Linked DNA regions of Homo sapiens. The protein of the gene in region 1 purifies or fractionates together with the protein of each later gene. This does not show direct contact. Each region holds a gene or a part of one and is shown in the gene's direction. Other genes may lie near its edges. The genes, in order: UNC45A, MYH14, SLC27A2 and MYO9A.

What was found.
Region 2: the proteins of UNC45A (region 1) and MYH14 purify together in Homo sapiens (affinity purification with mass spectrometry; 2 studies listed by BioGRID and IntAct, with this or other methods). This does not show direct contact.
Region 3: the proteins of UNC45A (region 1) and SLC27A2 purify together in Homo sapiens (affinity purification with mass spectrometry; 2 studies listed by BioGRID and IntAct, with this or other methods). This does not show direct contact.
Region 4: the proteins of UNC45A (region 1) and MYO9A purify together in Homo sapiens (affinity purification with mass spectrometry; 2 studies listed by BioGRID and IntAct, with this or other methods). This does not show direct contact.

Annotation. Positions count from the first base shown.
Region 1 is NC_000015.10:90,938,281-90,945,303, forward strand, and holds part of UNC45A (protein unc-45 homolog A), read left to right. Parts: intron 1-1,450; coding exon 1,451-1,543; intron 1,544-2,025; coding exon 2,026-2,193; intron 2,194-4,156; coding exon 4,157-4,325; intron 4,326-4,631; coding exon 4,632-4,802; intron 4,803-6,611; coding exon 6,612-6,783; intron 6,784-7,023.
Region 2 is NC_000019.10:50,198,753-50,206,644, forward strand, and holds the start of MYH14 (myosin-14), read left to right. Parts: upstream 1-4,869; 5' UTR 4,870-4,919; intron 4,920-5,060; exon of another isoform or gene 5,061-5,224; intron 5,225-7,892. UniProt on the Homo sapiens protein: Cellular myosin that appears to play a role in cytokinesis, cell shape, and specialized functions such as secretion and capping.
Region 3 is NC_000015.10:50,185,191-50,192,213, forward strand, and holds part of SLC27A2 (long-chain fatty acid transport protein 2), read left to right. Parts: intron 1-7,023. UniProt on the Homo sapiens protein: Mediates the import of long-chain fatty acids (LCFA) into the cell by facilitating their transport across cell membranes, playing an important role in hepatic fatty acid uptake.
Region 4 is NC_000015.10:72,045,146-72,052,168, reverse strand, and holds part of MYO9A (unconventional myosin-IXa), read left to right. Parts: intron 1-5,534; 5' UTR 5,535-5,605; coding exon 5,606-6,445; intron 6,446-7,023. UniProt on the Homo sapiens protein: Myosins are actin-based motor molecules with ATPase activity. Unconventional myosins serve in intracellular movements. Regulates Rho by stimulating it's GTPase activity in neurons.

The DNA of each region.
Region 1 (7,023 bases):
AGGAGAAAAGAATCTAAAGACCATTATGAGCTACAACCAAGCTCAAATTCGCCAGATAATTTGACGTTAAAATGCTGACACAGTGGAAGCAGATAACATGATGGCAGACACCTCACTGAAATGTTGAAGCCTGGGAAAGCAAATAGGTTTCCTCTCTCAATGCCAACTCTGATTGGCAGTGGCTGCCCAGAGTCCTATGTTGAGAAGAATTAGGAAGCAGATTGCCTGAGCCAAGCAGGGGAACGTGCCATGACTGGTTAGTCATGGCTGCCATGGATGCAAGAGAGGAAGGCGGGTGGTCCACATGCTAGGCTTGTGCCACCATCTATGCCCAGGACTCTGGGGGGTGGGGGAGTAGGCCTAGGATGATCTTCCCCATTCAGATTATTTATTTATTTATTTATTTGTTTGTTTTGAGACAGTCTTATCCTGTCACCCAGGCTGGAGTGCAGTGGATCTCTGCTGACTGCAACCTCCACCTCCCAGATTCAAGCGATTCTCCTGCTTCAGCCTCCCGAGTAGCTGGGATTACAGGCACCCGCCACCACACCTGGCTAATTTTTATATTTTTAGTAGAGACGGGGTTTCACCATGTTGGCCAGGCTGGTCTCAAACTCCTGACCTCAGGTGATCTGCCCACCTCGGCCTCCCAAAGTGTTGGGATTACAGGCGTGAGCCACCGTGCCTGGCTTCAGATTTTATTTATTTATTTTTTTGAGACAGAGTTTCACAGTTATTGCCCAGGTTAGAGTGCAGTGGCGTGATCTCGGCTCACTGCAACTTCCGCATCTTGGGTTCAAGTGATTCTCCTGCCTCAGCCTCCCGAGTAGCTGGGATTACCGGCATCTGCCACCACGCCCGGCTAATTTTTTGTATTTTTAGTAGAGATGGGGTTTCACCTTGTTGGCCAGGCTAGTCTTGAACTCCTGACCTCAGGTGATCCACCTGCCTTGGCCTCCTAAAGTTTTGGGATTACAGGCGGGAGCCACTGCGCCCAGCTCAGATTATTTTTAAAACAGTGAAAAGAGAATTCTGGAGCTAAAGGAAGTGTTAGCAACTACCTCACGATCTGCCAGCTCCCTGGCAGGAGGTATAAATGCTGAGTTCAGTGCCATGGGAAGCCCATTCACGCTGCCACAATGTAGATGGCACCACTGGGAGTGGGTTGCCTCGTAGCTGACAGGATACCTCCCCTCCGAAAAGGCACTCCAGCATCGGCGCAGCCCCTGCTGCCCAAGCAGGAAATAGCTCAGAAAGAAAAACAGGTGCGGGAAATTTAGGAGGCACTGCCAGGCAAGTCTCTTCCTGCCCAGGGTAGCTAGGTGCTAGCCCTGAGCCTGGACATCTTTACTGTGCCTCCCAGAGTGAGGAGCTGGAGACAAATGAATAGGGAGTGTGATGTCTCTGGCCAAGAGCCGTGATTTGTTCCATGCTTTGTTGGTTTGTCTAGGTGCGATACATGTCCTCGACGGATGCCAAAGTGGAACAGATGTTTCAGATACTGTTGGACCCAGAAGAGAAGGGCACTGAGAAAAAGCAAAAGGTATAGGCCCTGGGCTGAGTCAGTGAGTGAGCTCCCACTAGAGCCACCCATCCATAGGCCCCCGAAGCCACTGCTGCCTTGCTCTGCCGCTCCTCCAATCGTGCAGCTGGGCTCACGGGGCCTGGATGGGAGCTCTGAGGGTCTGGGGCTTTAGCGTGAACCAAGGAAAGAGAACCAGTGTTCACAGAGTACCTTGTTGGCCACGCCCTGTGCCAGGAACTGGGTGTACAGAGGTAACTGAGGCACTGTCCCAGCCCCTCAGGCTCTGCTGGGGACTCATTTGCTCTAACCATCAATCCCGAGAGAAGGCTCTTCCCTCTATTTACAGAGGAAGCTAAACTTCAAAGAGGTTATTTTTTGGCCGTGGTCACTCAACTGTGAAGTGGAAGCAGAGAGGTCCAGGGCTCGGGGCCCCTGCTCACCAGTGCTGCATCCTATGCCGTGTGCAGTGTCAACATTATAATGTGCTTCCTTTGACGCAGGCTTCTCAGAACCTGGTGGTGCTGGCCAGGGAGGATGCTGGAGCGGAGAAGATCTTCCGGAGTAATGGGGTTCAGCTCTTGCAACGTTTACTGGACATGGGAGAGACTGACCTCATGCTGGCGGCTCTGCGTACGCTGGTTGGCATTTGCTCTGAGCATCAGTCACGGGTAGGTGGAGTGGAGAGGCTGGTTACAGCTTCAGTCCCTTTGTCTGTCTGTCCATCCATTCCTCCATCCACCCATCTGTCCATCCGCCCATCTGCCCGTCCATCCATCCATCCACTCTTCCACCCTCTACCCCTTACCTTATTCTAAAAAGAACTTAGGTAGGTTATGGTGCCTCACACCTGTAATCCCAGCACTTTGGGGGGCTGAGGCAGGTGGATCACTTGAGGTCAGGAGTTCAAGACCAGCCTGGCCAACAAGGCGAAACCCTGTCTCTACTAAAAATAAAAAAATTAGCCGGGCATGGTAGTGCACGCCTGTAATCCCAGCTACTCAGGAGGCTGAGGCACGAGACTTGCTTGAACCCAGGAGGTGGAGGTTGTGGTGAGCTGAGATCGCGCCACTGCACTCCAGCCTGGGTGACAGAGCGAGACTATCTCAGAAACAAAACAAAACAAAACAACAAAAAAAGAAAAGGCAGAGTACAAGGAGATACATGTAACAAGAGAGAAAAAATAAAAATGGCGTGAAAAAGACCAACATAAATTAGGATGAAGTGGGGTAGAAAGAGCAAAAACAGCCTTGGGGTACCCCAAGCACTTGCTTTGTAGGGGGCTTACAAGTGTGAGCCCCAGCTTTCCTGCAGCCAACTCACAAAAACACATTGGTCACTGACTCCTTCAATGTCCATATGGCACAAGCAAGCTCATGGCCCAGAATGTGCCTGGCCACCACAGCATCTACCATCGAGACAGTGACCGGACACGTAGGGCTTGATCCCGACATGATTCTCAGCATGGATGGTGGTGGCCCAGCATGGACAGTGCAGCAATAACAGTCCTGCTCCTGGGCCAGTGTGGTGAAGTCCATGCCCCCAGCTCTTACCTGAGCTGGCTTGCTCCAGGGGAGAGGGGACCAAAGACTAGGCCCTTGGTTGCTTTTAGAGGAGCCCACAATTCCTAGATAGGGGTGAAACTGTGAAATAGTCAATGAAATCTCTTTAGGCTAAGCTTGGGCTGCATTCTGGGTCTCCCAAGGCTAAGACTGTTAAAAGCATGTGCATTCTGTTCCCTCCTGCCTTCCGGTCCATTCCAGTTCACAGTCTTGGCCAAGGACACTTAGCTGCTAAGTGGAAGCAGTCAGGATTTGGGCTCAGTGGACCAAGCAGGCCTTCTAGGGTTCTCCAGCTTAGAAACAGGGTGGAGAGGGCCCGGCGCGGTGGCTCATGCCTGTAATCCCAGCACTTTGGAAGGCCGAGGCGGGCAGATCACGAGGTCAGGAGATTGAGACAATCCTGGCTAACACGGTGAAACCCCGTCTCTACTAAAAATACAAAAAATTAGCCGGGTGCGGTGGCGGGCGCCTGTAATCCCAGTTACTCAGGAGGCTGAGGCAGGGAAATGGCGTGAACCTGGGAGGTGGAGCTTGCAGTGAGCCCAGATCGCGCTACTGCACTCCAGCCTGGGCGACAGAGCAAGACTCCGTCTCAAAAAAAAAAAAAAAAAAGAAAAAAGAAAGAAACTGGGTGGAGAGGTCTCACGGGCCCATTCCGTGTACGTGACGTCCACATCCCCAGGGTGTGGAAAGAACCTCAGGGTTTAGACTGGGGAAGAACTAGACCATTAAGCCTGGTGGTCAGGTAGCTTCGTCTAGGTATAGGTCTTTTTCTTGGGGAGGCATGAGCTAAGGCAGCTGCTCCCAGGGCTGCAGTATACTATGTCTTCTCTGGCACCAAGGAGAGGTAGTAGGGCATTGCCGTGTAATGTCTCCTTTAGGAAATCTTTCTAACAAAATTATCCTGCCATTACCCTGGGTCATGCCATCCATTCTGTGTTGTTTTCACCTGGAGCTGGGCCTTCCACCCAATTCTCTCCTTCTGGCCGTATCCTCTAACTCACAGTTAGGGATCTCTGTGGCTGCCCTTCAACAACTGGAAGCTTCCTTCTGTTTACCTCTCCCACCCCAGACAGTGGCAACCCTGAGCATACTGGGAACTCGGCGAGTAGTCTCCATCCTGGGCGTGGAAAGCCAGGCTGTGTCCCTGGCTGCCTGCCACCTGCTGCAGGTTATGTTTGATGCCCTCAAGGAAGGTGTCAAAAAAGGCTTCCGAGGCAAAGAAGGTGCCATCATTGTGGGTGAGTGGAAGCAGGTCTGGGGTCTTTTGGACGTTACTGTCATGGAAGGGATGGGGCTGAGCCAGCCAGGCCAGTTTTTTGGGGACCAGACTTGCAGCTGCAGGTTGTTTGGAATACGGTTTGGTGACATTATTTTACTCTAGATTCTCAGCAACCAAGGTGCCTCAGGACAAAGCTGGAGCTCAGTCTGGAGCCTGGGATGCGGATCCCCCCTTCCCTGTGTCTCCCTGGTTTGTTGGAGAAGTTGAAGGGTCAAACTGGGCTGGGCTGCTGTGGAGCCCACTGATGTCTTCTTGTTGTTGCCAGATCCTGCCCGGGAGCTGAAGGTCCTCATCAGTAACCTCTTAGATCTGCTGACAGAGGTGGGGGTCTCTGGCCAAGGCCGAGACAATGCCCTGACCCTCCTGATTAAAGCGGTGCCCCGGAAGTCTCTCAAGGACCCCAACAACAGCCTCACCCTCTGGGTCATCGACCAAGGTAGGTGATATAGTTCACAAAAACTTGCTTCAGCAGCTGAAGTTTGTTTATTCTTAGGAGTAATAAGAAAAGTTGTGAGTGGGGCCAGGCATGGTGGATGACACACTTTGAGAGGCAGGGGGTCACTTGAAGCCGGGAGTTTGAGATCAGCCTGGGCAACATAGCGAGACCCTGTCTCTATGAAAAATTAAAAAAAATTAGCTGGGCATGGTGGTGTGCATCGGCAGTCCTAGCTACTCCAGAGGCTGAGGTGGGAGAATTACTTAACCCTGGGAAGTCAAGTCTTCAGTGAGCTGTGATTGTACCACTGCACTACAGACTGGGCAACAGAGGGAGACTGTCTCAAAAAAAAAAAAAAAAAAAAGAAAGAAAAGTTGTGATTATCTCCAGCCACGTGTCTGCACTGAAGTGCGTCCTGTGGCCCAGGAGGATGCTGGAGCTGAGAAGATCTTCCAGAGCAATGGGATTCAGCTCTTACAACACCTTCTAGACACAAGAGCTACCCTTAGGGGGCTCAAAGTTAGACTCTTCTATCATATGCGTGTGCACATACATGCACATTGAGCGGGCCTGCAAGCAGGTTAGCAGAGAGGCTGGATTAGCTTTCTGTATTTTTTTTTTTTTGAGACAGAGTCTCACTCTGTCGCCCAGGCTGGAGTGCAGTGGCGCGATCTCAGCTCACTGCAGCCTCCGTTTCCCGGGTTCAAGCAAATCTCCTGCTTTAGCCTCCCGAGTAGCTGGGATTATAGGCACGCATCAGTATGCCCGGCTAATTCTTGTAGTTGTAGTAGAGATAGAATCTCACCATGTTGGCCAGGCTGGTCTCGAACTCCTGACCTCAAACAATGCACCCACCTTGGTCTCCCAAAGTGTTGGGATTACCGTCATGAGCCATTGTGCCCTGTTTTTTTTTTTTTTTTTTTTTTTTTGTTTGAGTGAGCATGTATTACTTCTATACTCAGAGGAAAAAATAACGGTAGATATATCAATTCATCTCTCTTTTCCCCTAAAAGATAAATAAGAGCTGGGCGTGGTGCCTCACGCCTATAATCCCAGCACTTTGGGAGGCCGAGGTGGGCAGACCACAAGATCAGGAGTTTGAGACCAGCCTGGCCGACATGGTGAAACCCCGTCTCTACTAAAAGATACAAAAAATTAGCCAGGCATGCTGGCATGCACCTGTAATCCCAGCTATTCTGGAGGCTGAGGCAGGAGAATCACTTGAACTCAGGAGGCGGAGGCTGCAGTGAGCCGAGATCGCGCCATTGCTCTCCAGCCTGGGCAACAGGGCGACTCTGTCTTAAAAAAAAAAAAGATAAATAAGAAAAGCTTTGCAAAGGCCTTGCATGAGCAGGGCCTTTCACAATGGTCCTATGAGGTGTGGATATCGTGTTCACAGTGGTCCCACGAGGTGTGGGTATCGTGTTCACAGTGGTCCCACGAGGTGTGTCTATTGTGTTCACAGTGGTCCTACGAGGTGTGGGTATCGTGTTCACAATGGTCCTATGAGGTGTGGATATTCTTTTCCCCTTAGTTTTACAGATGAGGAACCTCAAAAGCTCCAGAGCGTTTGGCCCCAGGGGCAGGGCTGGCATGCAGGCCTCACTTCTGAGGTCCTTCCCGATCCTACAGCCGCCTCCCTTAGGTAGCAGATCAGCTAAGCAGATTCTCCGGGCTGCCCTGGACACAGTTGTCAGAACTCTGTAGCCTTCTTGTCTTGCTTTTCTCCACATCTCCTAGGAAGCCTGTTTCTTTTACTTGTAGGGGTTGGAACTAGTGTTCTACTGTCTAAGCGGGGTGTCTTTACAGGTCTGAAAAAGATTTTGGAAGTGGGGGGCTCTCTACAGGACCCTCCTGGGGAGCTCGCAGTGACCGCAAACAGCCGCATGAGCGCCTCTATTCTCCTCAGCAAGCTCTTTGATGACCTCAAGTGTGATGCGGAGAGGGAGAATTTCCACAGACTTTGTGAAAACTACATCAAGTAAGGAAGTCTGTTTCACCTCCCGTTGCCAGGGATTCTAGCGAAAAAGTTCTGACTCCTTGAGGAGGGGCAGAAATGAAAGGTTTCCAGCAGAAACAGTAATCTTGGGGAGGACTAGTTGGAGGCTGAACAAAGGGAAAGTGGCCCCAAGGCCCACTTCCTGCTCCAAAGTGGCCTCCGCAGGGAGGTTCTTTCTCAAGTCAATGTTCCAATAATGCAACAAACGCCATCAAGCACGTA
Region 2 (7,892 bases), on another chromosome or scaffold:
ATGAAGAAGTTTGCTGACCCCTGGTCTAGAACAATTCTTGGCACACAGTAGGCACTCAAAAAATAATTGTTGCAGAACTGAACCTGTCACTCATCTGTGACCCACACGGGGTTGCTAGCTTGCTCTTGTCTCAGAGCCAGTTCCAGCTCCGAGTCACATGCAGGAAAACAACAGCCCAGCGACCAAAAATAAAATACTGGAACCATTCCAGTCTTTGCTGCAGAGAAAATGCCCAGGCAGGATTGCAGTCAGGACCCATGGCAAAACTTAGCACCCTCTTCCTCCTTTTGCTCTAGTAAGACTCAGGCCCCTTTCCCTCCATCAGGCATGGAAACTGCTCCCTAATTTTTTTTGCTCAAAATTTCCCCCCAAACTCTCTTCCACAAAGCTGCCCTGTCCTTGGTTCTCCCGTCTCTTCCCCTTTCAGCTCCAACTTTTTATCTTCTTTTTCTTTTTTTCTCACCCTGTCTTTTGGTGCTGACAGCTTTTTGTTTTCATCAGCTTAGTTCCTTGCTGGCTTTCCCCACACCTGTGCTGCTCCTTACTCAGATTCTGCATAACGAGGTCACGTCTGGGGGCTGTGCCAGCTGGTGGGAATCCAGCTTCCCTGGAGGCTCAGAATGCCCCCATATTCCCCTTTCCTTTTCCCCGGCACACACCCGTCGTGGTATTCCATCCCCCTTCACTGTCTGGGTTCCCTCTCTGCTGCAGCTGATACCCACAGGACCCACAGAGGGGTCAGCCCTGGACAGCCAAGGACTCACAATTTAATGTGAATGATCCCAGTGCCTGGAGTTCAGAGAGGGATGGCTGACGGGGTGGCCTTGATCCCTGAGATAATGAGTTTGGGGCTTTATCCTGAGGACCTTCTCTGGCAGGCCTGGATGGAGGACAGATGGAGAACTTAGAGGCAGTGGAGTGCCTCCTTTGGACTTGATTTTCTGGGTCTCAGCCTCCCTCTGCTGGCTTTGTGCAGCCCAAGCTCTACAGCCAGACTACATTGATTCGAATTCAGGCTCTGCCACCTTTAAACTGTGCAGACTACATTGATTTGAATGCAGGCTCTGCCACCTTTAAACTGTGCAACCTTGGTCAGCTGTGCCTCAGTGTCCTCATCTGTAAAATGGGTTTGACATTAGAACTTACCACTTAGCGTTATCAGGAGGATTATAGGATTTAGCACACAGAAGGGGCTTAGAACTGTGCCTGGAACACAGTAAGCACTCAATAAATACCAGCAACTTTCAAAATGCTGATACAGCCGTCCACCACATAGAATGCCCTCCGCAAAAGAAAGCTCATTACTATCACTCAGTGATGTCATCAATTACCTCATAGACTGAGCAGAATTGATGACATCTCCAATTATGAGGTCAATTTAGAACCTGGTGGGCATGATGATATCACAAGTTGCCAGGTAAATCTACCTGGGTAATCCCAGGCTAAATCTAGCCCTGGGTAGTGTTGATGACATCACCAGTTACCAGGCAGATTATAGTTAAAATGTGGGTGCCCAGTGCCTTCTTTCCTGTTTGAAATTCTGTTGTGTCCCAGTCCATACTCTTTCCTAGCACCGTTGGGAACAGGACTTTCATGTCTCTGGACCTCAATTTTTCTTTCTTTCTCTTTCTTTCTTTCTTTCTTCTCTCTCTTTTTTTTTTTTTTTTTTTTGAGTTTTTTGTGATAGAGTCTCAGTCTGTCACCCAGGCTGGAGTGCAATGGCACAATCTTGGCTCACTGCAAACTCCACCTCCCGAGCTCAAGCAATTCTCCTGCCTCAGCCTCCCAAGTAGCTGGGACTACAGGCGCCCACTGTCATGCCTGGCTTATTTTTGTATTTTTAGTAGAGATAGGGTTTCACCATGTTGGGTAGGCTGGTCTCAAACTCCTGGCCTCAGGTGATCCTCCCACCTCAGCCCCAAAAATTGCTGGGATTACAGGGGTGAGCCACTGTGCCTGGCGTGGACCTCAGTTTTCTATCCATCAAATGGGGATAATAAAAGCACCAGCCTCGTAGGGTTGTGGAGAGAATCCAATGAGTTAATACATAAAAGGGCAAAATGTCCAGCACACAGTCAGCACTCCATACACAGCAGCACTCATTATCTTTACTGTAGGATGTTTCCATGGAGCACGCTCCAGCCAGAGTGACAGGAGCCCTCAGCTCTGTCTTGGTTAAGACAGATGCCTGCAGGGGCCTGTTTCCTAGGAGTTGGAGCCCAGATCCGCCATTAGCAGTAGTCAGGAGACCCTGGACATGTTGCTAGCCTATAAAGTGGGGTAATGACCATGCCAGCCTCACGGGGCTGGCATGAGGATGCACTGACATAATGACAGTCATGTTTCCAGCACACAATCAGACCTCACAACTGTGAGCTGTGTTATCACTGCGAGTACTCTCAGAAAGGTCCTTTTCTCCCCAGGATGTTGTTTCCCCATCTGCAAAGAAGTGGAAGGTGGCTGTGGCAATCTCAAAGCCATGGCAATCTTGACACTATGACCACAGGGATGGTCCTGTGATTCACCTTTGCTGTTGCTGAGCAAGTGCATTGGGAGTTGGATGCTTGAATCTGTGTCTGCCCTCAGCACCCAACTCCAGCTTCTCTTGTCTCTTTTCTGCCCATCTCTTATCTCCCAACATTTCCTTTCATATTTCTTTGGCTTCTTGCTCGTACGCTAGACTTCGTATGTATATAGTTTCTCTCCTGCATGCTGTTTGTAGGACAATAAATGGCAATAGTCATGATAATCAGTATTTTCTTTTTCTTTTCTTTCTTTTTTTTTTGAGATGGAATCACTCTGCCACCCAGGCTGGAGTGCAGTGGTGCTATCTCCGCTCACTGCAACCTCCGCCTCCTGGGTTCCAGTGATTCTCCTGCCTCAGCCTCCCGAAAAGCTGGGATTACAGGCGTGGGCCACTATGCCTGGATAATTTTTGTATTTTTAGTAGAGACGGGGTTTCACCATGTTGGCCAGGCTGCTCTCGAACTCCTGACTTCAAGTGATCTGCCTGCCTCAGCTTCCCAAAGTGCTGGAATTAGAGGCGTGAGCCACCGCTCCTGGCCAGTACTTTCTTATTCAGCCTTTTCCCTGGTGCCAGGACTGTACTAAGAGCTTTGTAGGCACTAATTCACTTAATCCACTCAATACAAGCACTCATTACCATTTACTCAACAAACACTTATTAAACACCTACTGTGTGCCAGGCACTGAGGATTCGGCACTGAACAAAATAAAGATCTTTGTCCTCGTGGGACTTAAATTCTAGTGAGGAGACAGATGATAAACAGATAAATTAGCAAACACTCCCAGTGCTATGAGAAAAAGCAAAGCGGGGTTAAACGAGAGAGAGTGATGAGAGGAACTGTCTTATATAGGATGGCCAGGAAAGGCCTCTTGGAAGAGGTGATATTGGAGCAGAACGGATGATGTGGGAGAGAGGTTGTCATGCAAAACCTGGGGAAGAGCATTCCTGGTGGACCCAACAGAGAATGCAAAGGCCTTGGGGCAGCACCAGGCCTCCTGGTTTGAGAAATTGAGCCAGTGTAGCTGGAGCAGTATGAAGGGGAGGGCCTGGGGGTGAGATCAGAGAGAGCAAAAGGGCCAGCCACATCCCGCAGGACCTCATTGGCCATGGTGAGTTCTTAGACTTTTACTGAGTGAAATGGGAGCCATGGAAGGCTCTGAACAGAGGAAAGGCCCCATCTGAATAGAGTAGACTGTAGGGAGAGCAAGGGTGAAGGCAGACAGTCCATCACTCCCATTTTACGAGTGCAGAAATAAATGGAATCTCAAAAAAGTCCAGCAACTGGCCTGAGCCCACACAGCTGCTGAGCAGCCGAGCCAAGCTGGCAGGCCTCCTTGGGTTCAGTGGAGCCATTCCTTTGTGCCCTTGGCTCTTTTTATTTTCCTTTTAAATAGAGATGGGGCCTATGTTGCCCAGGCTGGTCTTGACCTCCTGGGCTCAAGTGATCCTCCCACCCTGGCCTCCCAAAGTGTTGGGATTACAGGTGTGAGCCACGGCACCCTTCCAACCTTGGGAAGTCTTTTGGCTCTCCTGAGCCTCAGTTTTCCCATCTGTAAATTGTAAATGGGGAATCATTACCACGTTTGGGCATAGCATGGCGGTTAAAAGCACAACTTCTGGTTGGATCTGAGTCCTTGCTCTGCCATCGGCCAGCTCTGTGACTTTCTGCAATTAACACCCTCTTTCTAAGCTTGGGGTTACCTCATCTAGAAGATGAAGATCTTAATAGCACCAATTTCAAGGGCTTCGTTGTAAGGATTAAATGAGATCATGCAGGTAAGGCGCTTAGCACAGCTCCCGGTCTACATCGAAGTGCTTGATAAACGATCATTGTTATTCCGATAGTATCACGGCCCACACCTCCCCGGTGGGTGAGAGCCTGGGAGGGTGCCTGGTACATGGTCTACGTTCGACAAAAGTGAATTCTGTCTCCTGTCTCTCCTGCCCGCCGGGTCCCGGGGGACCCAGGCATTCCGGCCTTCGGTCGGCCCCCCCACGCCGGCCCTTACAAAGGCCCCCATTCATGCCTTGCGCACAAAGCGGCCCATTCACCCTGGCCCCTTGGGCCTCCCGCCCCCGGCCGCCCCCCGCGCCTCGCTATTGGTGGCGCCCCGTGCCCATCAGGCCTCGGCTTCCACCCCCGACCGCGCCGCCTAGCTCCGCGCCCGGGCCGCGTTCTTTTCCCACGGCTGGCACCCTTCGACAACTTCTGATTGGCCCAGCCCGCCAGCCGCTCTTTTTGATTGGCGGCTCCCGTCCCCCAGGGGCGGGGCCGTAGCTTGCCGCAGCGGGCGCCGATTGGCCTCTGCTGCTCTCTTGGGGGCGGGGCTGTCCTGGCGGACACGCCCCTCTTTCTCCCCAGGCCGAAGCCTCGGGACGGCCCTGGAAGCCGGTGAGTGCCCGGGGCCGGCAGCCCTCCGGGGGCGGCGGAACGGGACTGAGCCAGGGGAAGCTGGAGCCTGGGGGCTGCGATCGGGGCCCGGGAGCCCGGGCAGGCGGCCGGGGACGGCGGGGAGGTGACGCGGACACTCACCTTGGGCGCGCAGCGGGACGGCGGCGAGGGAGGTGGGGGGGCGGGACGTCTACACTCCCCCAACTCCAGTTGCCGCCGTGTGCGAGGCCCGGTCGGGGTCCTCGTTGTCAGCCCCGGGCCTGTTCCGCAGAAGGGGAAACTGAGGCTGTCTTTGGAACCTCGGCCGCTTTAATACCTGAGTCATCGCCTCCAGTCCCCCGCCCCCAGCATGACATGTCTCTGTTCTCACGTGTCAGAATCGGAGGCCAGAGAGAGGGGTCGTGACTGGAAGAGGCGGAGGGGTAGGGAAGGACATATTTGAGAACCTATGATGTACTTGGACGCTTTTATTTTTTATAACTAAATAATTTCCTTTCCTTATCGTGTTGACTCGAGGTGAGTTATATTGTACCCATTATACAGAGAGGGGAAGGCTGAGACTGGGCCGAATTGGTGACTGCAGGGGGACCTGGTGGAGAAGAACACTCCAGAGACCAACTGTGTGCTGGGTCCTTTAACCTTTTCAGTCCCACAGGAGTCCCCTAAGGAAAGCGGTGGTCCCTGTGGCATAGATGGGGAAGCAGGTTGGTAGTAATCACCAACTGGGACGCAGAAATTCATGTCTTTAGGGACCTGCTACAAGTTCTTTCCAGACCCCCTCCTTTAGAATGGCAGAAAACGGTATAGGCTTGAATTCCAGACCTCCCTCTTACGCTGTGTGATCTTGAGTGCCTTACTTTGACCCTTCCTGCCTCAGTTTCCACATCAGAGAAATGGACATGCTGATCACCCCTATGTCATTGGTTGTTGAGGTTATTCTAGGCCGGGCGCAGTGGCTCAGGCCTGTAATCCCAGCACTTTGGGAGGTGGAAGCGAAAGAATCGCTTGAGCCCAGGAGTTCGAGACCAGCTTGGGCAACACAGCGAGACTTCGTCTCTACAAAAAGTAAAAGAGTTAGCCGGGCGTGGTGGCGTGACCCTGCTGTCCCAGCTACTCGGGAGGCTGAGCAGGGAGGATCGGTTGAGCCCAGGAGGTCAAGGCTGCAGTGAGCCATGATCGTGGCATTGCACTCCAAGCTGGGCAACAGAGAGAGACCCTGTCTCTCCCTCTTTTTTTTTTTTTAAATCATTTTATGATCTCAAAGAGCTGTTCTAAGAGGAGAAAATACCCGACACATAGTAGGTACTCTTATCACCATGTAGTCTTTATTTCACTCCCGAGACTGAAGCTCAGGACAGAATACCATTGTCCTCTTCTTTGGTACTCTTACTGTCTATAGATTTTGTTGTTCCCTTCCCGCAGTTGGGAAACTGAGGCTCAGGGAGATTAATGATGAAGCACTGGGCTGGGGAACTTTCTGAACGTCGTTTTATTAATTTCACTGGCCGCAATGCACAGCAGGGAAAGCTGAGGCCCAGGAAGCTCCAGCGGGGTTTGAATCCCGGGAATCCTCAGCCTTCTCCGCGGCGGGCCCTCGACCTTTGCCCTCCATAAGGGGGAGGAGCCCCTGGCGCCGCCGCCGCCGCCGCCCACCTGGCAACAGGCTCAACCCCCGCCTTCCCCCGGCCCCCGTCAGAGGCCCTGAAGCTCCAGGCCCGCCCCGTTCCCAGCCGGGCAGGTGCTGGGTGACATCAGAGCCGGGCTCCCGCCCTGTGACGCGACGGGGCCCCGCCCTGCGCTGGACCGCGGAGGTCGCTGCACCTGAAGAGAACGGGGATTCCCGCGCCCTCACCCCATCTCCCCGCTCCGGTCGGCGCCCCCAGGTAGCCCCGAGGATCTGCGAGTTGAGGGGGCGGCGACACAGGCGCTTGGGTCCAGGGGAATGGGTACGGGGCTCTCAGACTCCTGGATCTGAGAAGGGGCCTTGGGGGCCGGCTGTCCCAGGTCTGAGGAAGGACTGCGCCGCGAGCCCGAACTTCTGGGTCCTGGGGGAGGAAAGGACTGGGGCCAGGACTGCAGAGCTGGGGTCTTAGGGGAGGAGGGGGCTGCAAGCCCGGATTCTGGGGTCTGTAGGAGCAGGGGCTGGGGGCCTGAACTCCTGGGTCTGAGACAGGAGGGCATTGAGTACTGGGACTCCGGAAACCCAGCGCTAGAAGCCAGGGTCAGACGGCTGGATGCCAAGGGCCCCAACCTCTGCCCCAGGGCGGATCCCTGGCTGCTTTTCTTTTTCAAGCCCAGCAGTCTCGGCCCCTCCCAGGGCAGGTGCTTTCACCTGCCCAGGTGACAGTAATTAGCCCTGGCAGAGTGTTCCTGCTGGTTGAGGAAGGGTAGGGCAGTCAGAGAGGCTCGGCCACTTGGAGCCAAGGCCTGCAGGCCCTGCCCGCCCCATCAGGGCTGTGATCCATCTTCAGAACTCAGCATCCTCACCTCTAGCCCGGCTGCAGTGAGGTGAGGGGGCCTGCACTTCCCAATCCATAGGAGGAGGGGGCTGGGGGCTCAGACTCCTGGGTCCTGGGAGAGGAGGAGGCTGGGAGCTCGGACTCCTCAGCCTGGGGAAGGAAAGGGCTGGGGGCTTGGACTCTTGGCTCCAGGGAGGAGAGGCATAGGGCATAGGGTGATTGCAAAAACTCCGAAACCCTTCCTGGTCAAAGGCCACAGGGCTGGTGAGGAAGTGGATGGGGTGGGGTGGGGTGGGTGGGGGTGAGGGTAAAGTCCCAGGGATGGAGTTTGGGTCCGGTGTATCCAGGTCACACTGGAGATATGGGGTGAGCCTTGACGATTTGGGGGCCACGGGGTGGAGAAACTCCCTGCTGCCTTCAGAGTGCAAGGGTCCAGCGTTTGAGGCCTGAGAGCCTCAGGGCCAAGAGTCACTGGAAGCTGGAGCTGCTGGGCTTGGGGATGGGAGGAGAGGGT
Region 3 (7,023 bases), about 41 Mb from region 1:
GATACCCTCTTCCCACCCAGCTAACAGTTGTCTGCCATAGAGCTATGTGTTTACATAGAGAATATATGGGAATTTCTATATTAAACTCAAACGTGAACCAGACTTTACAGTGGACCTAAGGCACTCTCTGGACCGTCAACTGACCTCTGAGGGAGGCCACATATTTGAAAAAAAATCAGTTTTTCCAAATCACTGAGATACCTTTGCACATGAAGCAAAATTACAGTCTGTCACAGAGTTGCATGTTTACTAAACATGCCCATGGGAAAATATGTTGAATGGACTGATTCTTAGAATTCTTTGGTGTTGGAAGGGACCTTAGAGATATTCTAACCCTATAATCCTGTAAGTTTAATGAATGTGTTATACTTTAAAAAAAAAAGTTTACAGAAGAAACTTTAATAAGCCCAAGAATCACCTAGGAAGCTTACTTTTTTTTTTTTTTTTTTTTTTTTTTGAGACGGAATCTCGCTCTTTCGCCCAGGCCAGGCTGCTGTGGCGTGATCTCGGCTCACTGCAAGCTCCACCTCCCTGGTTCACGCCATTCTCCTGCCTCAGCTTCCTGAATAGCTGGGACTACAGGCACCCGCCACCACGCCCGGATAATTTTTTGTATTTTTAGTAGGGGCAGGGTTTCACCGTGTTAGCCAGGATGGTCTTGATCTCCTGACCTCGTGATCTGCCGGCCTTGGCCTCCCAAAGTGCTGGGATTACAGGCGTGAGCCACCACGCCTGGCCGGAAGCTTACTTTTAAAAACATTCTGAGGCTGGACACTATGGCTCACTCCTGTAATCCTAGCACTTTGGGAAGTGGAGGAGGGAGGATCACTTGAGCCCAGAAGTTCGAGACTAGCCTGGGCAACATGATGAAACCCCATCTCTACAAAAAAAAAAAATACAAAAATTAACTGGGCATGATGGTGAGCACCTGTGGTCCCAGTTACTGGGGAGGCTGAGGTGAAAGGATTGCTTGAGCCCGGGAGGTTGAGGCTGCACTGAGCTCTGACTGTGCCACTACACTCCGGCCTGGGTGATAGAGTGAGACCCTGTCTCAAAACAAAAAAATAAAATTTCTGAGATCATCCCCAAAAATGCTGATTCAGTAAGACTATGTTGGGGCCCAGGAATGTGTATTTTTATAAGAAACCCCACCGCCAACCCTAGGTGATTTTGAAACAAATGGTCTGAGGACTAGGCTTTGAGAAACAGTCTAGTTTCCCATTGTTTTTCATTGTTGTTTGTTTGTTTGTTTGTTTGTTTGTTTTTGAGACAGTCTCGCTCTGTTGCCCAGGCTGGAGGTGCCGTGGCGCGATCTCGACTCACGGCAACCTCCGCCTCCCAGGTTCAAGCCATTCTCCTACCTCAGCCCCTCAAGTAGCTGGGACTACAGATGCCCACCACCATGCCCAGCTAATTTTTGTTATTATCAGTAGAGATGGGGTTTCACCATGTTGGCCAGGATGATCTCCATCTCTTGACCTCGTGATCCACCTGCCTCGTCCTCCCAAAGTGCTGGGATTAGAGGCGTGAGCCACTGCTACTGGCCTTCTCATTGTCTTATAGCTGTATAAACAAAGGCCTAGAGGGATGATATGAATTGCCCATGATCAAGTGGATAGTTAGGAACAGAAAGGTAGAGATAGAACCCAAATATTTTTTTCTCACTTACGAGGCACTGTTTATTCTATCACACCATCTTGAACATGATACATAAATGTCAGTTTGATTCCATATTTTGAGTTTCAGCCCAGGGCTTGTGGACTAGTAAGAGCTCTTGAGCTCCATCTGTCAGTCAAATTCTGCAGTATATGTAAAGGACCAGCACAGAGGCATTTATCATGAGGATTGATCCAGTTGTTATGAATTTGGGGGTTTCTTTATAACACTTAACAGGACTCAACCCTATCAGGAATTTCAGTACTCAATTACTCTTTTCAATTTTACTATAGTTACAGAAAGTCAAGACTCATAAACACTTCCCTGAATCAAGCAGCAGCACTGTTTCCCAGAGAATATGACTTTCTCTCTGTTGTACATTTCAGGATCGTTCTCCAGGGCAGGGTATGATCTAGGTAATCACATGGGAAAATTGTCTCCAAGGATAAGAACCTGTATCAATGTTGTAACTAATAAAAGCCACATGGCTGGGCCAGTAGTTTTTCACCCAACTTTCCAAATACAGAATATGGGTAAAACAGTAAAACATATTTTATTTCACACAATATGGGATATTTTATAAAAACCTACAAAAGAGGCCTGAAATTGTACATTTGTTCCATTTCCATTTATCCTAGCATCAAGACCATCAATAAACTAGCTCTTCCACTGGGTAGATAACCCAGGTCTCCTGAGGGTCCCTTCATCAGCTCACTGGCAGGGTATACACTGCCTAACTCAACACAGCCATGCGAGGCTCCCACAGTGTAGGCACTACTCTTATGCAAGGCTTTAGTAACAGTTAAAGATACTCTCTGTTGCAAAACTGAGTCCCAGGTAAGTTATAAAACGTTCCAGATTACCTTTGACCTGGTTTTGCAAGGTTGCAGAAAACAAAATTTGACCTCCTTTAAACAATGTGATAAAGGAAAAATGCTTACAATAGCTTTCAAAAATATTGCATCATTAAAAGCTATAAGACTGAAGAACTTCATTACAAAACAAGTGTTGGGACCAAGGATAACCCTTGTCATCCAAACTTTTGAGATTAGATTGAGAAAAACTGATGGTACAACAATTTGATTTTCAAAGCAAGAAACATTTAGAGGGAGGAGAGGCCACCAAAAAAAAAAAAAAAAGGAGAGAGAGTCCCAACAAGGTACAAGCTAGTTTTCTCTGTGCCATGATGGGATGGAGAAATAAGATGAATTAGTTCAAGGATCTTACAGTCCAGTAAAAGAACTAAACCGCATGCACAAATGATTGTGACACCCAGTAGAATGTGCTCAGTGTGCTGGGAGGGCTACAAGTGCTGCAGGAAAACAAGCAGAGGTCAAGAGAAGGCTTTTTGGGGCACTGACTATTGAGCTGAACAAATGCAGTGGGGGAGGGGGCATTCCAGGCAAAAGGAGCACCAGAGGCAGTTCTGATCAGGTGCTTAAAACAGTGAGATGCTTCATTAAAGGATATTGCGATGTAAGAACAATGGCAGTCTGGACCTAATAATAGTCATTTTTTTAAGCTGTTTCCTGAAGGGACAGGAAATGGAAAAAATAGGGACTCAGAGAGTCCAAAGAATGGCCAACAGCAGTGGCCTCACTTCCACAGAAGGAAATATTTAATTTTCTAATGCCAACTTTAGTCCAGAATCAAGGCACAGAAATAATCTAATCTACACTCTTCCCAACTCTTTGGACTGCCCAAGGAGTAACTTAAATGAGTTGTTTCAATGCACTTTGTCTCAAAGGCTTAGAATTCTCTCATATATCTTTGAATAATTCCCTAGTAATGTCTAGCACATAGTAGGCAGGCAGTCAATAAGTGTCTGTTGGGCAGGGCACGGTGGCTCATGCCTGTAATCCCAACACTTTGGGAGGCCAAGATGGGCAGATCACCTGAGTTCAGGAGTTGGAGACCAGCCTGGCCAACATGGCGAAACCCTGTCTCTATTAAAAATACAAAAATTAGTCGGGCATGGTGGCGGGCATCCGTAATCCCAGCTACTCCGGAGGCTGAGGCACAAGAATCACTTGAACCTGGGAGGTGGAGGTTGCAGTGAGCCAAGATCACACTACTGCATTCCAGCCGGGATGACAGAGTGAGACTGTCTAGATAGGTAGATAGATAGATAGATAAATAGATAGATAGATAGATAGATAGATAGATAGATAGATAGATAGATGCATACAAACATACATACATACATACATACATAATGGATAGATAATGTCTGTTGAATTAATGGGTTCCATTATTCTGGTTGATTGTGACAGGCTTTCTCTCCTGAAGCTTAAGGACCACTGGGTTGGGCATGAGGGCCTGAAAAATGATGTAACAAAATCAGATGTGAAAAAATCCATTTAAACTCAATCTACCCCAGGCCCAGCCTTACCCTACCACAGGCTTACTTACCTCTCAAAGGTCCTCCTAATCAATGACTCTGTCCAGCTCTCTGGCAGTACATGGTAGGACAGCGGTGCTCTCCTTGGGTCTCAGTGCAGCAAGTAAGCAGGTGGTGAGCACAGGATGGGCTGGAAAGGACCTGTGAGTAGGGTGGTGGAGGACCCTGTACAAGGACAGAAACCCAGACACCAAATGATTAATATATCCAAGGGCTGGGATTCCCAGCCTAGTAGCCCAAGGAAAGATAGCTTAAAGATATTCTCTAAGATTTTTCTTCTCTCCCTGCTCTTAACTAAAGCTTGCAAAGGAGGTGATTGTACATCTCCATCCAAGAACAAAACTAGCACTTTGCTGGCATATATGGGAATGCACTTTATTTTCTTCAGAAACAGGGACTGAAGAGGTAAAAACAAACTCTGAATCAGGTGTTGTTATTGAATCTGAAAGAGAAGGATAGAGTTCAGATTATTCTATATAATAGGTGCTAGTATTTGAAAAGGACCTTCCCACAGCCTCTGAGAAAAGGGAAGTAGATCATTGGTAGAAAGATGACATGGTTGCTTACAGATATCAAATGCTAACAATTATGTAAGGCCTTATGTGACCTGGTAACTCATGATAAGGAATTACCTTTGATTCCAGGGCTATTTAGAAAGCAAGAGTTCATATAAGCAAGAACTTTAACTTGGAGAAATAAAAATTAACATCAAGGAGATTACTACTTAATTACCTAAATGTAAAATGAGTATGTATTTCCTTGTTAAATTTTTGCTTACTCCTGGTGGAACTTAAACATTTTTATGACCTCCGGGTGATTTGTGTGGGGAAGAAGGAGGAGCACATGCATGTCTCTCTCTCTATATATAGTATTATAATGTGCATCATCTTGCTGTACAAAATACTGTCATTCCAAACTGCCAATGATTGAGATGCAAAATTACAGTTACAAATGGCATTTTAGGAACTATTTTTAGGTTGTCTTCAAGGACTATGTTATTAATAGCACCAGTTTGCATTTCAGTTGCTTTTCTGAATGAAGAAAAGAGATAAATCTTCAAGCTTGACTTGCTCATCAACCAACCATTTCATGATCAGAGTACATTTCCTTTCACTACCTTCCTTTTGGACCTTACCTTCTTGGTAAATATTTCTGGGGTGTTTTGTTTAATCCAGTCAGTTACTCATTCACTGAGGCAGTCTAGTAGCAGAACAAGCTACTAGACTGAATGTTTTCCTATTGGAAAGCTGCAGGTTTAGCCTGAGCACCTGACACCTTAGTAATGAAGATTGATTCAGCTCACCACCTACCCAATCTCTCTGCCTTCTAGCAATGGACTTGTTTATTCAGAAAATTCTTCCTTTTTCCTTAAAAAAAAAAAAAAAGGCAGGGGCAGACTTAATATGCTACCTTAATTTTTTAAAATTTTCTTTGAACAGACTTTAAAGGGGATGGGGGAGTAGTGTTGTAATCACTTGATTTTTCAACACCCAAGTGTGTGCTCTTTCTCTGTGGGTTTATTTCAGTCTACAACTTAAAACTAGACTGATGAAGAACCGACTGATGGAGCTGCTCTACACCCTTCAGGCAACTTTCTGTGACCACTGTTTCTCATACTCAAACTTTTAATAAAGCTTGAGGTTTTGCTCTTCAAGAAAAGATCATCCATGTTACTCATTAAATGCAGATCCACATGATTGAACAAGCACTGAGCAGAAGGCCAAGCAGCCAGCCTCTTCCAAGAAATAAGGCACTTTGCTAGAACTTAATCTGAATGGCTCATACAAGGAGGTGGGAACCTCAGAAGCCCAGAATGATTCTTTTCATTTTGCATGTGACCCTCCATACACTGACTTGGTGAGCCTCTTCTCATTTGTAGAAATAAGATTACTGGTATCTATATCACAGAGTTGTTATGAAAATTATGTGAAGTGATGTATGTAAAACTATACCAACAGTTCTATGCAAATGAAAATTTTAAATGTTTGTTATTAGTAAAGAGAGAGGTGGGTGCATGCTCTGATGTGCCACCCAGATCCCTGCTTTAGGACTGACGGACTCACTCTTCAGCTGCTGGGAGCTCTCAGCTGAGACCTCTCCCAGGACTTCTCCTTGGTTGAAGAGAGACACTTTGCCCAAGGTTAAGCACCACCACCCCAGCCTGAGTCCATTGGACTGGTCAATGGGCAGGTGTGAAGGCACAGCCTACCTCCCTTAATTTAGGAGGTAACTCTGAAGGGCATCCCAGGTCCAGAGTCCCCTTAGGATTAGAGGATCTGCTGAGGGAGACTTCTGTTGTGACTGCATTACAGTTCAATGTCTCCCTCTATCCAGTCTGCTTCCCTTGCAGCCTCACAGGTCCCATTCCCAAGAGCACTCCTGCATGCACATCTCGGAGTCTCAGAGAACCCAACCTTGACAAATAGAATTATAGGAGCTTACATGTTCTGATTGATAGATGAGCAGACTTTACAATAAAAATTATAAAAGGTAGATAGATATTTTATGCTTGCATTAGAAAATATGTAGGCCAACCAGGCAGTGGCTCATGCCTGTAATCCCAACACTTTGGGAGGCCAAGGTGGGCGGATCACTTGAGGTTGGGAGTTCAAGACCAGCCTGGCCAAATTGGTGAAACCCCATCTCTACTAAAAATACAAACATTAGCCGGGCATGGTGACAGCCGCCTGTAATCCCAGCTACTCGGGAGGCTGAGGCAGGAGAGCCGCTTGAACCCAGGAGGCAGAGATTGCAGTGAGTTGAGATCACGCCATTGCACTCCAGCCTGGATGACAGAGTGAGACTCCATCTCAAAAAAAAAAAAAAGAAAAAAGAAAATATGTAGGCCCAAACATATCTACAAAAGACTCAAGAAAATAAAAGACATTAAATATCAACTAGATAGTTGACAGGTAGATTCACATCCAGAATTTCCTTTCAAATTTCTTTTTTCTTTCTACATCTTT
Region 4 (7,023 bases), about 19 Mb from region 1:
CCCTGCAGCTGGTTGTCCCATCATCTTCTCAACTCCCGGCAGAGAGGAGACCCTGGGGTGGGCACCTTTTCTCTGCAACTGGCAGGTGGTTGTCTCCCCAAGTCTGGCTGAGTTCAGGCTTTTATAGGTCTCAGCAGGGAGGGTGTGTGTACTGATTGGTTCATTGACAACCATGGGTGAGCCTGGAGAAAGCACCACAAGTTCCCACTCTGGTCATCGGGTGCCAATGGAAAGCCTGGTCCCCAGGCTTCAGGCCTTCCCTGGCTTGAAGGTGGGGTTTCACCAGGGACCTGCCTCCTTTTGCCCAGGAGCCTGCCTGCCTCCTCCTGCTGTTCATGGTGCCCAGGCTGTTTGTGACAGGGGGTGCCTACAGGTACTGAGCTGCCCTCAGTACCCCCTCAGCCTCCCTCTAGTGTTTGTAGGCACCCAAAGTTTAGAGGGGGCCAAGGTGGCAGGGGGCTGGTGTATCAGTGCTATCTGGAGCGTGTGCACACTTGGCCAGGCTGTGACAGTGCCCAGTCTCGGACCCAACCTTTCTCTGAGATTGGAGTGGGTGCTGGGAGTGAGGAGAGGCCAGGCAGTGGGAGCAAACACCTCTGAGCCTGCAGGGACTGGGCGGGGGGCCTTCCTGGGCCTCTGAGAGTGCAGACATGCCTGGGTCTGCAGCTGCAGCTTGGGCGGCTGCAGCTGTGCCTGGGAGGGTGGGGCTCCTGCCTGCTCCCATCCCCCAAGAGCACAGTGATGCCTGGGTCTGCAGCCCACCTGGGCAGGTGGCCGCAGCTGCACCTAGGGAGCACGAAACTCCTGCCCTGTCAACTCAGAAGGTGGCAGGGTTCCCACCTGTTCCTGGCTTCTGCTGCCTCCATGGAGCACGCAGTCCTGGCTGCACCTCCCCCACTGCAGCTGGTATCATGGCAGTGGCCGCTATAGATGGGCCGCTGCTGCCATCGGTGGCATGCACTTACAGTCCCAGCTACTCGGGAGACTGAGGCAGGAGGATCACTTGAGTCCAGAAGGTTGAGGCTGCAGTGAGCCATGATTGTGCCATTGTACTCCAGCCTGCATGACAGAGACAGACCCTGGCTCTATAAAACAAAAACAAATACAAAAACAAAACAAAACAACAACAAAATAAAGTGAGTTAATGGAAAAGGAGCTGTAGGAGTGAGTCAGAAAAAGAGCAAGACTATCAGGAAGACTACAAGAAAAATAACTATGTGAGTACACTTTCAAGAACTAGAAATTGGCTGCTTTAGTCATGCCATAGTGTGGTGTGTTAAAATGAAGAATGAGGAAAGACCTTTGGATTACCAACTCTGTGGAATTTTGTGACTTCTCCGGAGCATTGTCAAGTAGCTTGCTATGTGGGAAGAGTGGTAAGGGAGTAGAAAGTGAGTTCCCAAATATTTGGGAATATGGTGATTTTCAAATACTATTTTCTGGACCAGCAATAACAGAATTACCTGCATTTCCTCAACTCATAACTATTGTTGAGCCTGGTAATGTACATTTAAAAAAAAATTTTGTTTGTTTGTTTGTTTATTTATTTATTTATTTATTTAGAGACGGAGTCTTGCTCTGTCACCCAGGCTGGAGTGCAGTGGCATGATCTTGGCTCACTGCAAGCTCTGCCTCCAGGGTCCACGCCATTCTCCTGCCTCAGCCTCCGGAGTAGCTGGGGCTGCAGGTGCCCACCACCATGCCTGGCTAATTTTTGTATTTTCAGTAGAGATGGGGTTTCACCATGTTAGCCAGGATGGTCCTGATCTCCTGACCTCGTGATCTATCCGCCTCGGCCTCCCAAAGTGCTGGGATTACAGGTGTGAGCCACCGCACCCGGCTGGTAATGTACGTTTTGAAAAAGCTCCCCAGATGATTTTGATGAAAGCTCATGTCTCGGATTTGCAAGTACAGATTTTCCAAGCTGTTTAGTAAGGACTGGCTTGTGATCAAGATGGATTTCTGAGTGGTATTTTGAGACAAACCCTCCTTTTTGTAAAAAAAAAAACAAAACAAAAAAACCCACAAAGCAGTAATTGATAAAATAACAAAGATAAAACCAAACTGACAAAACTAGGACTCAAAAAAGGTAAACACTTCTGTTTCAGGAAGGAGCAGGTGTGATTTTGGCTGCTTTGAAGTAATGGGGAAGTGTAATTAGAGTTGGGCTTATTGTTGGAAACAGTGGTCCAAGATAGGACTCCTGTTAAAAAAGATGTTTCTAAGTTTACTTCCAGGGCTGCCATATTATACAACTTTAGGGATTAGATTGTAGTTACTTAGTACAGTGGTCTTTAACCTTTTTGGCACCAGGGACTGGTTTCATAGATGAAAATTTTTCCACAGATGGGGTAGTAGGGGATGGTTTTGGGATGAAACTATTCTGCCTCAGATCATCAGGTATTAGATGATTAGTTAGATTCTCTGGCATTAGTTAGATTCTCATAAGGAGCATGCAGTTTAGATCCCTTGCATATGCAGTTCACAATAGTGCTTAATGCTTCTATGACAATCTCATGCTGCTGACGATCTGACAGGAGGCAGAGCCCAGGCAGTAATGCTTACTTGCCTGCTGCTCATCTTCTGCTGTGCGGCCCAGTTTCTGACAGGCCATGGACTGGCACTGGTCCATGGCCCAGAGGTTGGGGACCCCTTAACTTAGTACATCTCCTGGAGTGGTACAGGTCACAGCCTCCCTGGCTGTAAGAAGATTTGCTGCTGACTGCTGCCAGATGCCATAGCGTATATGAAGCAAACACTTAGGGATTCAGGAAAGCAAACATAGCTATACAACTAGGAACCTGGTAACTCAGAGTATATCCTCACTGTTATTGCAGAGCAGAATCTCCAGCTAGACTATCTGTAAGAAAAATATTTATGAGATAACTGAGGAAATTTGGAAATTTGAATATCAATTGATCATTTAATACCAAAATTTTTAATTTTTAAAAATATATTTATGATACTGTAGTTCTCTTAAAAAAGTAGTAAACATGTTCTCAGTAAGTGTTTGTATGAAAAACAAAAGAAGTTCCATCAAAAGTGCACTTGTAAAGCTAAATTCTCAAATATATGAACTCATCTCATGCTAAGGAAGATATGAAATAACCATAAGAGCAGTTCCGTCTGGATGACATTTCAGTGTTAGTCTGAAAAATATTAAATTACATACTGAGGGTTTTCAAAAAGAAAAGGAGTAATAGCCCTTAAGTATAAATAATTTTGAAATGTAAATCGGCGGAAAAAAGATGAGGTGGATTTGAAAATGACAAAAACTTTAGAAGTGAAAAATATAGTTGTAATTTTTAAAAGCCAACAGCATGGTGTTCATGAATGAGAAGAGTCAATTAGATGTCAGTTCTGTCCAATATTAATCTGTAAAGTCAATGCAGTATTAAAATCTGAAAAGGTTTTTTTTCACGATAGTAAACATGCAAACTTAAACATTTTTATGGTAGTGTAAATAGCCAAGGTAAAATTTGTAAAGAACAACACATTAAGGTAATGTGCCCTTCAGATACCAAAATTTATTATAGGACTGTAGTAATTAACAGAGGTTCAGGGGTGGAAAAATAGACCTATGGAACAGACTATAGAGCCCAGAACAGATTGATAGGTACAGATCCATAGATGGAATCTATTTTCAGTATGCTATGAGATAGGACTGTTAATTTTCTTCACTCCAACTCAGATTAGCAATTGAACCAGTACCACAGTGAATAGTTTGTCCTTTCCTCACTAGTTTATTTCTTTTTTAATTTTTTTTTTTTTTGAGACAGTCTCATTCTGTCACCCAGGCTGGAGTGTAGGGGTGCGACCTCAGCTCACTGTAACCTCTGCCTCCCGGGTTCAAGTGATTCTCCTGCCTCAGGCCCCTGAGTAGCTGGGATTACAGGGACGTGCCACCATGCCTGGCTAATTTTGTATTTTTAGTACAGACAGGGTTTCACCATGTTGGCCAGGCTGATCTCGAACTCCTGACCTCAGGTGATCCGCCCGCCTTGGCTTCCCAAAGTGTTGAGATTACAGATATGAGCCACCACTCCTGGCCTATATGGCTGGGTTTTTTTTATATGTTTTGTATTAATCTCTGTGTTTGAAAGACCATCTAGGCAAACAGGAAAAAATAGTTTCTTGATTAGAAGACTTTGACAAATATGTAGTAGTATGAGAGGATAGATAGTACCCTGGGCAACATGGTGAAACCCCATCTCTACTAAAAATACAAAAATTAGCCAGGCAAGGTGGCGCACACCTGTAGTCCCAGCCAGGTTGAGGTGAGAGGATCACCTGAGCCCGGGTGATGGAGGGTGCAGTGAGCCAAGATCATGCCGCTGTACTCTAGCCTGGGTGACAGAACAAGACCCTGTCTCAAAAAAAAAAAAAAAAAAAAAGGAAGTAACTGAAAGTATTTCTTCTTATTATTTTTTTAATAGCACATCATCCTTATATGTTAAAGGATGAAATAAATAAGGTAAATATTGATGACACATGAGAGTAGTTTTTTGGGGGCATATAACTAACTAATGAAGATAAGAAACAGGTTTTATCAGCCCTGGAAAGTGTGTGGGGCATATTTTCTCAGTAGAAGACAGGAATGGAATAAGATAGATGAGGTAAAGATAGGAATAAATTTTGAGTTGGAGAAGCCATTTGAAGGAAATCACTATTTTCTCAGTGAGGTATAAAAGTTGAAATCATTCTTCTAGAAGTGTAATATACTGTATACGAGGTTCGAGAAGATGGGAAGAAAATGCAGAATACTTGTAAGGAATGCAATAAATAAGGTTAGGTAAAAAGATATAATGGTAGCATTGAAGGAAAAAGGGAAGCTGAATAAAATTTGTAGTGGTGCCTAGTTGTATAATTGTGTTAAATTTGCCTAGCAAGTCAGGGGCAGGATTCTTTTGTCACTCTTGCCAAACTCCCTTCTCCTTCCCACCTTGTGGGAGGGAGTGAGTCAGAGCCTAGAATTCCTTGAAAATATATGTCTATCTCCTTAGTTGGTTTCTCTCATCATTTTCTTGGTTTTATGTAATTTCTATGTTTATCTATCTTCTTGCTGTTTTTAACAAATTTTACAAAATTTTTGCTCCATTGTTGGGATGCTTTCTTGTTTTTGCTTTATCCTTAAGAAATTTTGGGTACAGGGCAATTAGATTTGCATGGTTATTCTGTCTTAATCCAGTCTTTGTTAAGTATAAGGAAAGAACTTGGTTCTAATCCCAAGTTCCTTACAAACATTTGAGACAGCAGGGGAAAAATAATTTTTCTTTGTACTCTTTGGATTTTTGTATAATAAAACATTGAAATATATGTTTTTTTTGGCAAGTTACTATTTTAGAAAGTGCCTAGATTTGGACAGTGAAACTTAATATTATGTGGTCTCAATGAAACTGTTGCTGTGCTAAGACAAGAGTTAGTATTTTGTGTTTTAGAAGATGTAATCAACATGCTTGTTAAGCTTTTCTTTCTTGAGCATCAGAAAGCAATGTGTATTTACTTCTAAATATTTTGCATCTTTTATGTTACAGTTATTTTACCAAGAAAATGGTTTGCACGACTTTGAACATATACTATCCATGCTGATGGGACAGGATCCAATATGAATATAAATGATGGAGGAAGACGACGCTTTGAAGATAATGAACATACATTACGGATATATCCTGGGGCTATTTCAGAAGGGACAATCTACTGTCCGATTCCTGCCAGAAAAAACTCCACAGCTGCTGAGGTGATTGAGTCTCTTATAAACAAACTTCATCTTGACAAAACAAAATGTTATGTTCTAGCAGAGGTAAAGGAATTTGGTGGAGAAGAATGGATTCTCAATCCAACAGATTGTCCAGTTCAGCGAATGATGCTGTGGCCCCGAATGGCTCTGGAAAATCGCTTAAGTGGAGAGGACTACCGCTTCCTTCTGAGAGAGAAAAACCTTGATGGATCAATCCATTATGGTAGCCTGCAGTCATGGCTACGGGTAACAGAAGAACGTCGCAGGATGATGGAACGGGGTTTTCTTCCACAGCCTCAACAGAAAGACTTTGATGATTTATGTAGTTTACCTGATTTGAATGAGAAAACTCTCTTAGAAAACCTACGAAATCGCTTTAAGCATGAAAAAATTTATACCTATGTTGGCAGTATTCTAATAGTTATTAACCCATTCAAGTTTCTTCCTATTTATAACCCCAAATATGTCAAAATGTATGATAACCACCAACTGGGAAAACTTGAGCCCCACATTTATGCTGTGGCTGATGTAGCTTATCATGCCATGCTTCAGCGCAAAAAGAATCAGTGCATCGTGATTTCAGGAGAGAGTGGTTCTGGGAAGACTCAAAGCACAAACTTTCTTATTCACCACCTTACTGCTCTCAGTCAGAAAGGATTTGCCAGTGGAGTAGAACAGATTATTCTTGGAGCTGGACCAGTACTTGAGGTAAATATATAGAAATCTTATTTTTGATTTTAATTTTGATTTTTATCCTTTGAGGTGGGGGGGTGTACCATTCCTGGAGGTACTGCAATACCAGGTCGATGTGTGGAGTAGATCAAGCAAGATACTGTTCCATCTCCCAGCTCCAAAAACTCATTTAGGGCTGGGCGCAATGGCTCATGCCTGTAATCCCAGCACTTTGGGAGGCCTAGGTGGGTGGATCACCTGAGGTCAGGAGTTCCAGACCAGCCTGACCAACATGGAGAAACCTGTCTCTACTAAAAATACAAAAAAAATTAGCCAGGCGTGGTGGTGCATGCCTGTAATCCTAGCTACTCGGGAGGCTGAGGCAGGAGAATTGTTTGAACCTGGGAGGCAGAGGTTGTGGTGAGCTGAGATCATGCCATTGCACTCTAGCCTGGGCAACAAGAGCGAAAATCCATCTCAAAAAAAAAAAAAATTGTCTTTGGATAGAAGACATTTCAGATATTAAACTATAAAAACATAACTGTACTTGATCTTAGCCAAAAGGCTGAGAAGCTATAGAAATACTGTTCTTGCTATTCTGGGCACACTGCCTG